Homo sapiens: one gene and its partner. The protein of the gene in region 1 interacts with the protein of each later gene in a pairwise test. Each region holds a gene or a part of one and is shown in the gene's direction. Other genes may lie near its edges. The genes, in order: APTX and XRCC4.

Region 1 (5,808 bases):
ACCCCTGCCTCCTGGGTTCAAGCTAGTCTCATGCCTCAGCTGTCCGAGTAGCTGGGATTACAGGCATGCGCCACCACGCCCAGCTAATTTTTGTATTTTTAGTAGAGATGGGGTTTTGTCATATTGGCCAGGCTGGTCTTGAACTCCTGGCCTCAAATGATCCACCTGCCTTGGCCCCCCAAAGTACTGGGATTACAGGTGTGAGCCACTGCACCCAGGTTTTTTCCCCCCCATTTTTATAAATGAATTTTTTTATTCATTTTTTGTTTTCGTTTTTGTTTTAAGAGATGGGAGTCTCACCCTCTCTCCCAGTCTGGAGTACAGTGTCAAGATCATAGCTCACTGCGGCCTTGAACTCCTCGGCTCCAGGTATCCTTTTGCCTCAGCCTCCCGAGTAGCTGGGGCTATGGGTGTGCCACCATGCCTGGCTGATTAAAACAATTTTTTAGAGATGAGGGTCTCACTATGTTGCTCAGGCCAATGTTGAACTCCTGACCTCAAGTGATCCACCTGCATCAGCCTCCTGAGTAGCTGGGATTACAGGTATGAGCCACGTGCTTGGGTCATTTTTATAAATTGATATGAAACTTTTATCAATTAAAATTCTGGTAATTTATTTTTATCTCTTAAGTGAAAATGTACCTTGACTTTTTTATTTTTTAACGGTTTAAAACATGTGCAGTAGAAATTCTCTGTTAATACATAAATGGAAATTACATTTTTTTTCATATTGGCGTGTATCTACAAATATTAAAGGACAAGAAAAGGTAATATAATTTTAGGTTTAACAAATATGGTGTATATTCAAATAATACTTGACCAGCTTATCTAAATTGTACATAATATTTGGACTAGCATATGAATTTGATTTTAATTATTATGTTCACAAGCCTGGGATAATTAGATGTTATTTTGCATCTGTAACTGTAATCATTTCTTGTAATTTCTTGTGCAGGTGTATTGTACTTAATAGATTTTACTTTTGGAAATATGACTGTTGAAATTAGCTTAGCTTTTATTTACTGTTTGTAGAGTATTTTCGTTTTGGAGAAGAACACTGTTTTAGTTTAGGACGCTTTTCAAGAGTGAAAGCTTCTGATGATTTTTTTCCCTCATAGGAAGAAATACTGGAAAGAAAATGTTAGTATAATGCAGTTATTGTAACAGCTTATGACTTGATTTTGATTTGGAAACCTATACTGACCAGATATTAAGCTTAAGGATTGTATAAATCATTAAAGCTGTGGTCTTTTCATATGGAGGTTGATAGATAATTTTTTTGTCTTGAGTCTTATTTGGTGACTTTCTATTCATGTAATTCATCATGTGTGAGTGAGGTTGTTGAACAAACTGAACACATGGGCTACAGCAAGTAGTTTTTATTTTTTTTTATTATACTCAAGTTCTAGGGTCCATGTGCACAACAGGCAGGTTTGATACATAGGTATACATGTGCCATGTTGGTTTGCTGCGCCCATCAACTCATCATTTACATTAGGTATTTCTCTTAATGTTGTCCCTCCCCGAGCCCCCCACCCCCCTGACAGGCCCCGGTATGTGATGTTCCCTGCCCTGTGTCCAAGTGATCTCATTGTTTAGTTCCCACCTATGAGTGAGAACATGCAGTGTTTGGTTTTCTGTCCTTGTGATAGTTTATAGCAAGTAGTTTTACAGTACAGATCTTTCCATTACATTTTATTGTTTAAACAAAACAAAATTTGTTTTTCTGTTAGGAATAAGAAAAAAATGGTTTTTACATAGGTTCTTACGGTACGCTTGGAGTACACTTACAGGCCACTGCTGCAGTCTACATTTTATTGTGCTGAATCTGCATTCTATCAGATACCCATGGAAAGACCTCAGTATATGCTTTGCACTCTGCTTTGCTCCCCTTTTCCAATTTCCTATTGCAAATCATTTTGATGTAATACAGAAAAAACAGCATTTAAATATCTACATGAAGAGTTGACCCACTAATGTCAGCCGACCTCTACTTTGTCAGCTCATAGTTAAATCTTTTATCATTTCAAAAATAAAGTGCATTTTCTTTTTCTTTTTCTTCTTTTTTTAGTGATGGAGTCTAACTTTGTCACCCAGGTTGGAGTGCAGTAGCATGATCTCAGCTCACTGCAACCTCCACCTCCTAGGTTCAAGTGATTCTCCTGCCTCAGCCTCCCAAGTAGCTGGGATTACAGGCACCTGCCACCACGCCCAGTTAGTTTTTTGTATTTTTAGTAGTTAGTTTCACCATGTTGGGCAGGCTGTTCTTGAACTCCTGACCTCAAGTGATCCACCTGCCTCGGCCTCCCAAAGTGCTGGGATTACAGGCGTGAGCCGCCGCACCTGGTTGCATTTTCAAAAGAATGAATTTAAGAATAATAAAATTAAAATAGGCCCACTTTTAAATTGTGGTCCATTTTATAATTCAATTTTTATTGTTAACAAAAAAAAAGAGTATAAATCAGATAGTAGCACTCTTCGGCTGAAAATCCTTCAATGGCTTCCCAGTAGATTCAGAATAGAATGCAAACCCTTTGTCACCTTTAAGAGGCTTTATGACCTGGCTCCTGCCTCGTTTCTGCTGCTTGGCTCCAACAATTCAGGCCATACATTTGGGCCATATTACCTTCTTTCTCTTTCTTGGTTGCACTGAGCTTTTCCTCATCTCAGGGCCCCTGCTCTTGGCCTCCTCACTTTCTGAGACACTCTTCCCACAGACCTAGCTTGCTTGGGTGCTGTCTCCGTTCAAATCACTTCCCGGGAGATGCTTTCCCTGAACACTGTTAACTAAAGAGGGCAGCTTCTACCCCTGGGCACTCTATCCCATTTTCCTTGTTTATTTTTTCTTGGCAATGTTAATTCTTTAAGTTTTTTTTTGTTTGTTTATTTGTTTGCTTATTTATTATTTGTCTTTCCTCATTAGCGTACAATTTCTATAAGGGCAGAGGCTTTTCCCATTTTGTTTCTTGCTAAAGTCTCAGTGCCTGGAACAGTGTTTGGCCATAGTACATACTTATTGAGCATTAAATATTCTTAAGTAAATGAATGAATCAATTGAATTAAATGGACACACTATCACTTCAATAGTATGAATATTCAAAGAGTATTCAATAGTATGAATATACAATGTACTCATACTCTTTGTCATTTTGATTAAGCCATAGTTGTTAAAGAGTTTAATGCTCAGTTTTTTTTTCTTTCAACTAGCCATGTACATCTTCATGTGATCAGCCAGGATTTTGATTCTCCTTGCCTTAAAAACAAAAAACATTGGAATTCTTTCAATACAGAATACTTCCTAGAATCACAAGGTAAACAGTGTTCCTTGGTTTTCACATTTGTTTCATTTTCTGAGCTGTTCTTATATTTGATTTGGTTGTTTCCCTGAATAACAGTCTGACCTCAAAAACCTATGTACAACTTTGTGTTCCCTATAAAGCGAGCCCTGTGAAAAGAAACTGGATTATTTGGATTGTAGTATTATTGCCACTTTGCTGTGAGTTGTCTTCTTGGGGGACCTAGAAAGCTATTATGTCAGGGTCAGTGTTTTATTGTGACAAAAGGGGACTTAAAGGCTGCCGTGAGAATTAGTGGAGTTCATGGATAAGAAAGCTGTGGACAATTCTTTGTCTCTTCTGCCATCAGTTGGGTGGGAGCTTTGGGGCTGCCTCCTGTCAGGAGTGGTGAATTAGCAGGGGGAACCCTGTGTATATGTAGAAGAAAGCATTTTCTGGTGTGTGATGCTTTCTTACACACCAGGAAAGCATTTCCTGGTGTGTAAGAACTTAAGCATTGATGGGGTGTTCACAATGGCAGCTGGCATTTACCAAGGGCCAACCAGAGGTAAAGCACTCTGATGAGCTCTTGACAGAGTAACATGGATTGCCTAGAGTGTGTCCTGAAGGAGTGTATTATTTCAAAGGTGGGTTGCTCATATTTATAATCTGATTAAGCTCATTTTGCCTGAGGGAAGTCTAAACTAAGCTTACGGAGCTGTAGAATACCTGGCCTGGCATACTGATTGGAGTCACGTTTTTGATTTTTTTTTTTTTTTTTTGGTATCTCATATTGGTTTTCCAGAGTAGCTGGGATTTGACTTTTCTTCCTTGCCTGCAGCTGTGATCGAGATGGTACAAGAGGCTGGTAGAGTAACTGTCCGAGATGGGATGCCTGAGCTCTTGAAGCTGCCCCTTCGTTGTCATGAGTGCCAGCAGCTGCTGCCTTCCATTCCTCAGCTGAAAGAACATCTCAGGAAGCACTGGACACAGTGATTCTGCAGAGCCTGAGCTGCTGCTGTGGTGTGGCCCACTGGAGCAAACTGCTGGCACCTATTCTGGGTTGCTTGTGAACTTCTACTCATTTCCTAAATTAAAACATGCAGCTTTTTCACAAATTTATTCTATTATTGAGTGGCCACAATGTAGAGTGGCTCAAAGTACTTCAGGATTAGGAATTTGGGTTTGTCATAGATGTATTCTCTGGTGAGGGTGGCTGGGATATACCTGACCCACCATCTTCAGAAGGACCCATGTCAGGTCTGACCATTGGGAGCAAAGCCATGTTCACACTGACCTAATGCAGAGTATGGAAGCATTGGGCTGGTTATACATTTCTGTTTCTTAGATTTATCCTCCGCCTCTGTAGGCATGGACAACCTTTAATCAGAGCATCTAGAGTGGCCTCTTGTTTATCCTGAAGATACTGATGGGTCTTGTTTTCTGTTAGTCTGTTTTGTAATATTCTTTTCCCTTCCTTCATGGGGAGGCTTAGTTTGTCCAGTCCTTCCATGCCCTTCTATCCCAGATTACCTAAATGTTCCCTTCTCAGGAATTCTGTCTCATCAGTTCTTCACAGTGAGAAAAGAGGCTAGATGATGGTGTGGGGGGTTGGAGTTTTCTTCTAATACCGAGGGTTCCTGGCTGTGAGGAAACAGCCACATGTTCGTCATGATTGAGCTGTGAAGTCTTCTTGGACCTGTTGTCTGAAAATAAAGTTAATTTGTTTGAGGCATCTCTCTTAAGTAGGTGGAAACTATTGAAGTTCAGCTAACAATCACAGCATAGGTTCTGATGCATGGAAAGGTGGTTGGTGAATGAAAAAGTTGCGTAGAGCCACTACTTTCTTTTTCCCTGAGAATAAATTTGGATAAAACAGTTGTATTCAGTTGTTTTTTGGGATAATATTAGAACTAAAGGTGAAGGGAAAACTAAAAAGTTGGGTTTGATGAAATTGTGGATATCTTTGGGGATGTGACTTTTCACTCAAGTTGTGAGAAAAAAGGAAACACCCTTAACAAAAGCTTCTTCTGGAGAGAAAAAGCCACAGTCCATAGAGACATTTGACCTCAATGTCTTTCACAAACAAACAAGATGCCACAGTGGTTACTTAGTGAACATAGGTATAGTAATAATTATATAATTAATGATCATAGCAGCTCACATTTGTCTGACTCCTGTGTGTCCTGCATTATGCTAAACACTGTACTCAAGTGATCTCATTGAATTCTCACTGTACATAACTCTATGAGGTTACGTGCTATTGTTATGCCCCTTTAGTGGATGAGCATCTAATATTCTACAATGGTTCCTGGGCACTATCCAAAGTTGGTATTGATTCTGATGCATCAACTCATTATTTTTCTTATCAATTGAACAGTATAAATGCAAGACTAACAGCAGAAGCCATAGAACCCAGGGGCCTTGGACCTGTGCTGATCAAAAGCTTTCCGTGGCATTTCATTGATTTCCCTGAGATCAGCCAGTTCCTTTAGCCCTTTTTGTCCATCTCTCATTCCCAACATCTTTCATC
Region 2 (7,295 bases), on another chromosome or scaffold:
AAAGCCTTATTAAATCTCTTTACCACTGCTTGCTTTTCCAGTTCTTTTTAGCTTTCTTTGTCTTCCCAACTCTATTCAGACTTTCTTTTGACATACAACCCTGACCTGGGCCAGATATAATTTTGGCCAGAACTGATTATTAATTTAAGGATTACTGCACTGTGTCTAAATACCATATGTTCACATTTATATATCTATTATTTTATTTTGAGCTATCATTTAATCTGTTGTTTCATTTTTGGTGTTATTTCTGCATGAAATTGTTGTGTTTTTCCTCCTAGTTTGTTATTGTTTTGACATGTTATTCTTAGATTGTTTTCCCACCCAGAGACATTTTATTTTGAATATTCAGTATTTTTTTGTATTTTTTTATCCTTTTAATTTTTTAAAAAAAATTACTATTTTTTTGTCCAAGGTTTTAGATACCTCAGTGCTAGGTTGCTAATTAAATTTAGCATTATTGTTCTGTTTTCCTAGTTATTGTAGAAAGGATGAAGTATCATTAGACCTTTCTTGTTTGATGTTATTTGTGATTTCGTCCCAATTTGAGATTTGCCTGGATTTGATCCTTGGACTAGTGTGGTCTGATCTAGTTGTACATGGGCTTTTTGTTAGTGTCACCAGACTTAGCAGTGAATCCCATGTCTCTTCTCCACTAAATGTTCTCACCTAACAGTTCCTGTCCAATTTCTTGAGGCATAAGCTTGACAGGAAGCACGTAATGGAATGCATAGTAACATCATAATGCTCTAGGAGAGGATTGGCATTAAAAATTAGGTGGGAATGATACGACATACCTCTTAGTTACTGATTATTGGATAAAAGGATAGCATTCTCTGAGTCTTGAAAAATTAAAAGTTAAGAGTAAATTCATGTCATGCAACTGTTCACACTAATACTTTTTCTCCAGTCAGCTCCCGCTCCCCCACTTTTCTAGGAAGTGTTGTCCAGTTTGATGATCAGAAGTTTGGTTGCAAAAAAATCCTAAAGCTTTGCTGAAACCAAGCAAGGTTAACTCACATGATACCATTCATTCTATTGACTGTGTTTTCCTGTCACAGAAATGTTTCCTTTGACAACATAGATCTGATACTGGTTACTTAAGATTAACAATATTCTTTAGGAATATTATATGATATTTCATTTTCATATTTATTTTCACTTTGAATGTGTCATACCAAATGTTAATTTTAATAAAGGTTTGGGAATTAGCTTGTTAGTTGTTAAGTACACATCATCATTCAATCAAGAATTATTGAAGTGACTTATATGGAAATTAAATATGGACTTAAACCAGATAAATTACTAATTGGTTACCATTCCTAAAATTTAATATAAGAAATTGTAATATATTTGTTTATATGTTTTCACATATTGGTTTTTACTTTGCATATGTTTGAAGTATGTTATTATATACTCAGGTATTTCAGTAATATGTATGTTTTAAAGTTTTTTGTTGTGTTTTTTTGAAAATATTATAGGAAGATAAGAATATCATGCTTACGTAACACTGAATCTGAAATATAAATGTAGTGACATGTCTTTGCTTAAAATAAACTATCAATATTGCTAGCTCCTTTTCAATATTCAGTTTTTTTCTAACATCTTTCGTGTACTTCTTTCTCAGAGAACTTTGCTTAATGAAGGGAATACTGTTAGATTGATATTATTTGCCACAGTTTTTTTAAAAGCTGAAGATGAAAAACATTACTTTTACAATGGTGAATAGCTATTAAATGAGGGAAAAAATACAATATTCGGAATCACTGTTTTTCTGTTTCCTTATAAGATGTCAATATTAGCCATTCTCCTTGGCTCTTCTTCTTTGCTGGAGGGCTATAGTCAGCCATGGTGCCCAGCAGGAATGGCATAATCCTGAAGCCCCACTTTTGTAAGTACTGGCAGTGGCCTATAGCAATATGGTTCACCCAGCCTGCAAGGAAGAGCCACAGACATGGGACTGGGCAAGCCCACTGCATTGCCCGGTGCCTTGTATCTGGACCCACTGGCCCCTAGTAAAATGCCCCACATGAGGTTTCACACCAAGTACAAGCTGGTAGGGGCTTCAGCTTGGAAGAATTAAGGGTGGCCAGCATCCACAAGAAGATGGCCTGGACCATTGATTTCTCTATTGATCCAAGGAGGTGAGACAAGTCTACTGAGTCCCTGCAGGCCAATGTATAACAGCTGTAGGAGTACTGCTGGAAGCTTATCCTCCTTCTCTAGAAACCTCAGCCTCCGAGAAGAGAGACAGCTACACTGAAGAACTCAAATTGGCCATCACACTGACAGGACCGGTAATGTTCATATGAAATACCTATACGAAGGAGAAAGCCAGAGTCATCACCAAGGAGGAAGAGAACTTCAAGACTGCCACGTCAGGCCAGGTGCGGTGGCTCACGCCTGTAATCCCAGAACTTTGGGAGGCTGAGGCAGATGGATCACGAGCTCAGGAGTTCGAGACCAGTCTGACCAACATGGTGAAACCCTGTCTCTACTAAAAGTACAAAAATTAGCCAGGCATGGTGGCAGGTGCCTGTAATCTCAGCTACTCGGGAGGCTGAGGCAGGCGAATCGCTTGAAACCAGAAGGCAGAGGTTGTAGTGAGTGGAGATCGTGCCACTGCCCTCCAGCCTGGGCAACAACAGCGAAAGTCTGTCTCAAAAAAAAAAAAAACAAAAAACCTGCCATATCAATGCCTGGCTCTTTGGCCTCTGGGCAAAAAGGACCAAGGAAGCTGCAGAACAGGATATTGAAAAGAAAAACTAAAGCACTGTTGAGGCCTTGTAATAACTCTGCAGAAAAGCTGGGAAAACGAATAAACCACTGGGAAAATAAATAAACCAAAAAGATGTCCATATTAATTTATTCACTTTATTCGTTTGTCTAATAAGAACCTACCAAACATCTGTCGAATGCTAAACACTATGCTGGGCACTGAGGATACAGTGGCCAATAAAACACACATGCTGTCTGCTTTCGTGGAGTTCACATCTTTGGCAAAGACTGTGCTGTAAGAATTTGCTGAAATTGGTCCCAGAGAATATATTGCCATATTTTCCTTTTTATCCTATGATACGTTCTAATTCTTTGCATCTCTAGATAGGTAGATTGTTGAAAGTTTAAGGGCATGTATATAAAAGCTATCTAATTTGGACATTTGTGTTTCTAATTTCACTGAAATATATATGTGTGTGTCTATATATGTACACACACATATATATTACTACTGGTATATATGTGTGTGTGTGTTTATGTACAGTATAAAAATACTAGGATACCTGTAAAACAACAACAATGTAAATAAGCAGTATGAAACAACATTGAAAAGAATACATAAAATAATTTGTATTTGAATCAATAAAATAGGAATGTATTCATCATGTATGTGTATGCATATATTAAGTATATACAACCTCAGCTATTTTGCTTTCTTTATATATCTCTTGGGAGCTTAAAATAAATACAATCCCTTGTTAGCTCATTTGAGCAGTATGGGATGAATTAAAAACAATAGAGAATTTTGTATGTTTTGTCTTACGTATCTAAATTTGAAGATATGTAGTGTTTTACATTTGCTGTTTTATTAATCTCTCCTTGAATATATCAAGTAGAATACTTTCATTGGGTATGTGTATTGCATTTCTATATGTATTTGTGTGTGTGTGTGTGTGGTGCTCGCTTATAAGAATATAACTGGATAAGTCGTGTTCTTGTTGTGGAGCAGTTTGTTGTCTAGTAGATAAATCAGACAAATTAGCTATGTTGCCTTATCACAAAATAAGATTGTAGTTGCTTTTATAGTAATATTAACATAGTACTGAGGAAACAGGCTACATTTACTCTTGTTTGAAATTTATCCCATAAAAACATTCTTTTGTAAATAAACCATATGTATCAATAAATTATCTTTAGGCATTTTGATTTTCTAAAGGCTTATTTGTATCAGTTTTCAATTTTGATCCTTATCTCAGTAAATAAATTACATTAATAACCAATAATTTCTAATTGTGTATTTAACCATCTTTATAAAACTTCCAAGTCAGTGAAAGCATATGTGAAAATAATCTTTAATTGTATTTTCCTTGAAATCTTCTTGATTATTAGGCTGAATTATGTTAATGCTAAGCAGAACTGCATGACTAATTTGTTTACTTATTTACTTTTTTAGATTTGAAAAATGTGTGAGTGCTAAGGAAGCTTTGGAGACTGATCTTTATAAGCGGTTTATTCTGGTGTTGAATGAGAAGAAAACAAAAATCAGAAGTTTGCATAATAAATTATTAAATGCAGCTCAAGAACGAGAAAAGGACATCAAACAAGAAGGGTATTTTCGCTATCTTGTTTTTGGATGACAGATGAATACATTTAAGTGGAATTTCTTCCCAAAGTTAATGAACATTAGATGCCAACTTTTTGATCATATGAGATAATTTGGTAGTCTGGATGTGGATGTTCAGGCTGTTAGATAGGGGTACCATGGGCTAGAGAGTTCTCAGCATGGTCTCTCTATGTCTGCTCAACTGTGTCACCTACACTTAAATTAAAAAACTGACATGAGGCTTATTAAAGTATTATTTAATTCTTAGACATTAGTAAGACATACTAATTTAAAAAAAAACTTTCATCTGCAGAACTACAAAAGTTGGATGCATATTTGTAATCTTGATGTCTAGGCAATGATTAACTTTAGAATCAAGTGGTTAATATTAAATTCCAGGGAGCACTTATTTTATCTGATTAGAGTGTGATTATCAGTTTTATTCTTCTTTCACATATTCTCTGAAAGTACATATGTACTTGATTTTTATGGAAGAATCCTAAGTGACAAATGGCTGATACGGCTTTCGACGATTATAACTTTTTTACGCATTAGCAAATACAAGTTAGGGTCTGTTGCTTTGAATCTTAGTAGAAGTACAGAATTACCAGTGACGTAGTATAAAAAAATTTGATATCAGCTAGTCCTAGCACAGGTACTGGTCTTGCAGTCATACCTATTAGTTTATAGCTTTGGACAAGTCACTTTATCTTCATAATAAAGGTAAAGATACCCATCTTAGGGTTTTGCAGAGATCAAATGAAATGCGAACTGTTCTGAGATTAGTAAAATGTTAAATACTCTGTGACTCACAGAGATAATTTGTTAGAAAAAGTATTTTGATGGAAGAATAGTACCTGATAAGAAACTGATTTAATATTAATTATAATAAGTACTAAATTCAGATTAAAATTAGGTAAAAGAGAAACTTGTTCTTAAGAGAGTTAATATATAGGTTTTAAGATGCTTTCATCTAAATCATATATATTTTCAATATGTTTGTCTAATTAGAATCTTTTTCTAGGAATATTTTCTATAATTGCTTACTGATAAATCTGCTGCCTAGCAGGGGGTGAGCCAGTTATTTATAATTCTACCTTTCTCTGTTTCTAGGGAAACTGCAATCTGTTCTGAAATGACTGCTGACCGAGATCCAGTCTATGATGAGAGTACTGATGAGGAAAGTGAAAACCAAACTGATCTCTCTGGGTTGGCTTCAGGTAAGAGATACATACATTTATCTCCTCTGTTGAATATCTTATTTGGGCTTCTTATTCTAATGACAAGAAACCATAATGGAAAAATGTTGTGAAAGACCTTATTCTATGAAAATTCTTTAGCATTTTTATTTTAAAAACTCAAATTTTTAATGTTAAAACTTAATATTATTTGTAAAATGCAGCAACTCATTAGCACAGCAGTGTGAGCAAGCATTCATACACATATACTCCAAGGTATACTATTCCTGGTTAAATATAACCAGGAAAAGCATAAGCAATGAGGAAGAAACACCTTTATGCTAAATATCATCAGCTTAAAGCTGGTTGCCTTTAACATTTGAGATCTTATTTAGCTAAAGCCATGAATAGGCCACTGGAGCAGAGTAATCAAGAATGCTCTAAATTATACTGAAGTTGAGGCCTTCTTTCACTCTTCAGAAAAAAGATTGCAACAAGTGAGATGTAATAGAGGAAAAGAGAAGGGGAAAAATGGCAGTTTAGTACAAAGTACCTATGACTTACTCAGTCCTTTGGATCAAGTTCCCAGCAAGTGTTTAAACCCATGAGTTATTTTTTAAAATGTTTTATAGATTTCCTAGTGACGGTGGAAACAGGAGCCTCTGAACTCATTTTATACTTAGATGGTTTTGACCTAAAACCAATACTATTAAAATAAATGCTTGATTTATTTATTTAGAAAATATTTTTGAGTTCCTATTATGTACTAGAAACTTTGCTATGCATTAGACAGCAAAACACAAAAATCTGTGCCATTGTGGAGTTTAAATTGTAGTCAGGGAAACATATAAGATGAATAAATATAAAATATGTTAGGTTGATAAGTGCTAAAGAGAAAAATAAACCAGAGAAGGCGTTAGAAAGGTCAGGGTGAGAATAAGGATGAGGGTTATGATTTTAGCCAGACTATCAGAAAAGGCCTCAGTGAGAAGGTGAAGGTGACATGCTGTCTTGGGGAAGACCATGCCAAACAGAAAACAAAAACAAAAACAAAAACAAAAAAACACTAAGTACAAAGTTCCTGACGCGTTTAAGCAATACTATAGAGTGTAATCTGGATAAAGTAGAAAGATGAAGACTGGGAGAATTAGGAAATGAGATGAGAGAGATGATGGGACCTCATCACGTGTAGGGCGATATAGGCTACCATTAGAACTTCTCCTGTTACTTTGAATTAACTTGGAAACTACTGAAGGATTTTAAACAGTCAGGTGACATAATCTGACTCAAATTTCAAGAGGATTAGTCTGTGTATTGTGTTAAGAATAGACTATAGGATGACAAATGCAGAAGAAGATATAACAGATGGGAAGCTAGTACAACAATTCGGTGAAGGATGAGGCTGGCTTAGACCAGAGTGATGGAGAGGCGATGAGCAAGGAGCAGATTCTAGGTGTGCTTAGAGGCAGCAGGATTTGCTGATGAAGGGGTTATGACTGAGCAAATAAGACTGAGAAGGAGCAGCCAGGAGGTAAGAGGCAAAAATATAAATGTGGTATCCTGCTGATTGATGGATTTAGCAATACAAACGTTATTAAGGATCTTAATAGAACATATTCACTGGATTGGTGAAGGAAGGGGATAGGAGAGAATAGGAGTTTCAAAGGGAATGGGAGGAGAGAACTGGAGATGAGACAGGCAATACTTTCAACAAATTTCACTGTAAAAAATGGGAAAGACATGGGGCGGCAGCTGGAGGAGGAAGTAGGATAAAGAAAAGTATTTTTGTTTGTTGT

The links.
Region 2: the proteins of APTX (region 1) and XRCC4 interact in binary tests that used the Homo sapiens proteins (3 or more experiments, as listed by UniProt).

Annotation. Positions count from the first base shown.
Region 1 is NC_000009.12:32,971,961-32,977,768, reverse strand, and holds the end of APTX (aprataxin), read left to right. Parts: intron 1-566; exon of another isoform or gene 567-1,380; intron 1,381-3,207; coding exon 3,208-3,311; intron 3,312-4,080; coding exon of another isoform or gene 4,081-4,085; exon of another isoform or gene 4,086-4,116; coding exon 4,117-4,271; 3' UTR 4,272-5,153; downstream 5,154-5,808. UniProt on the Homo sapiens protein: DNA-binding protein involved in single-strand DNA break repair, double-strand DNA break repair and base excision repair.
Region 2 is NC_000005.10:83,199,381-83,206,675, forward strand, and holds part of XRCC4 (DNA repair protein XRCC4), read left to right. Parts: intron 1-4,171; coding exon 4,172-4,327; intron 4,328-5,434; coding exon 5,435-5,541; intron 5,542-7,295.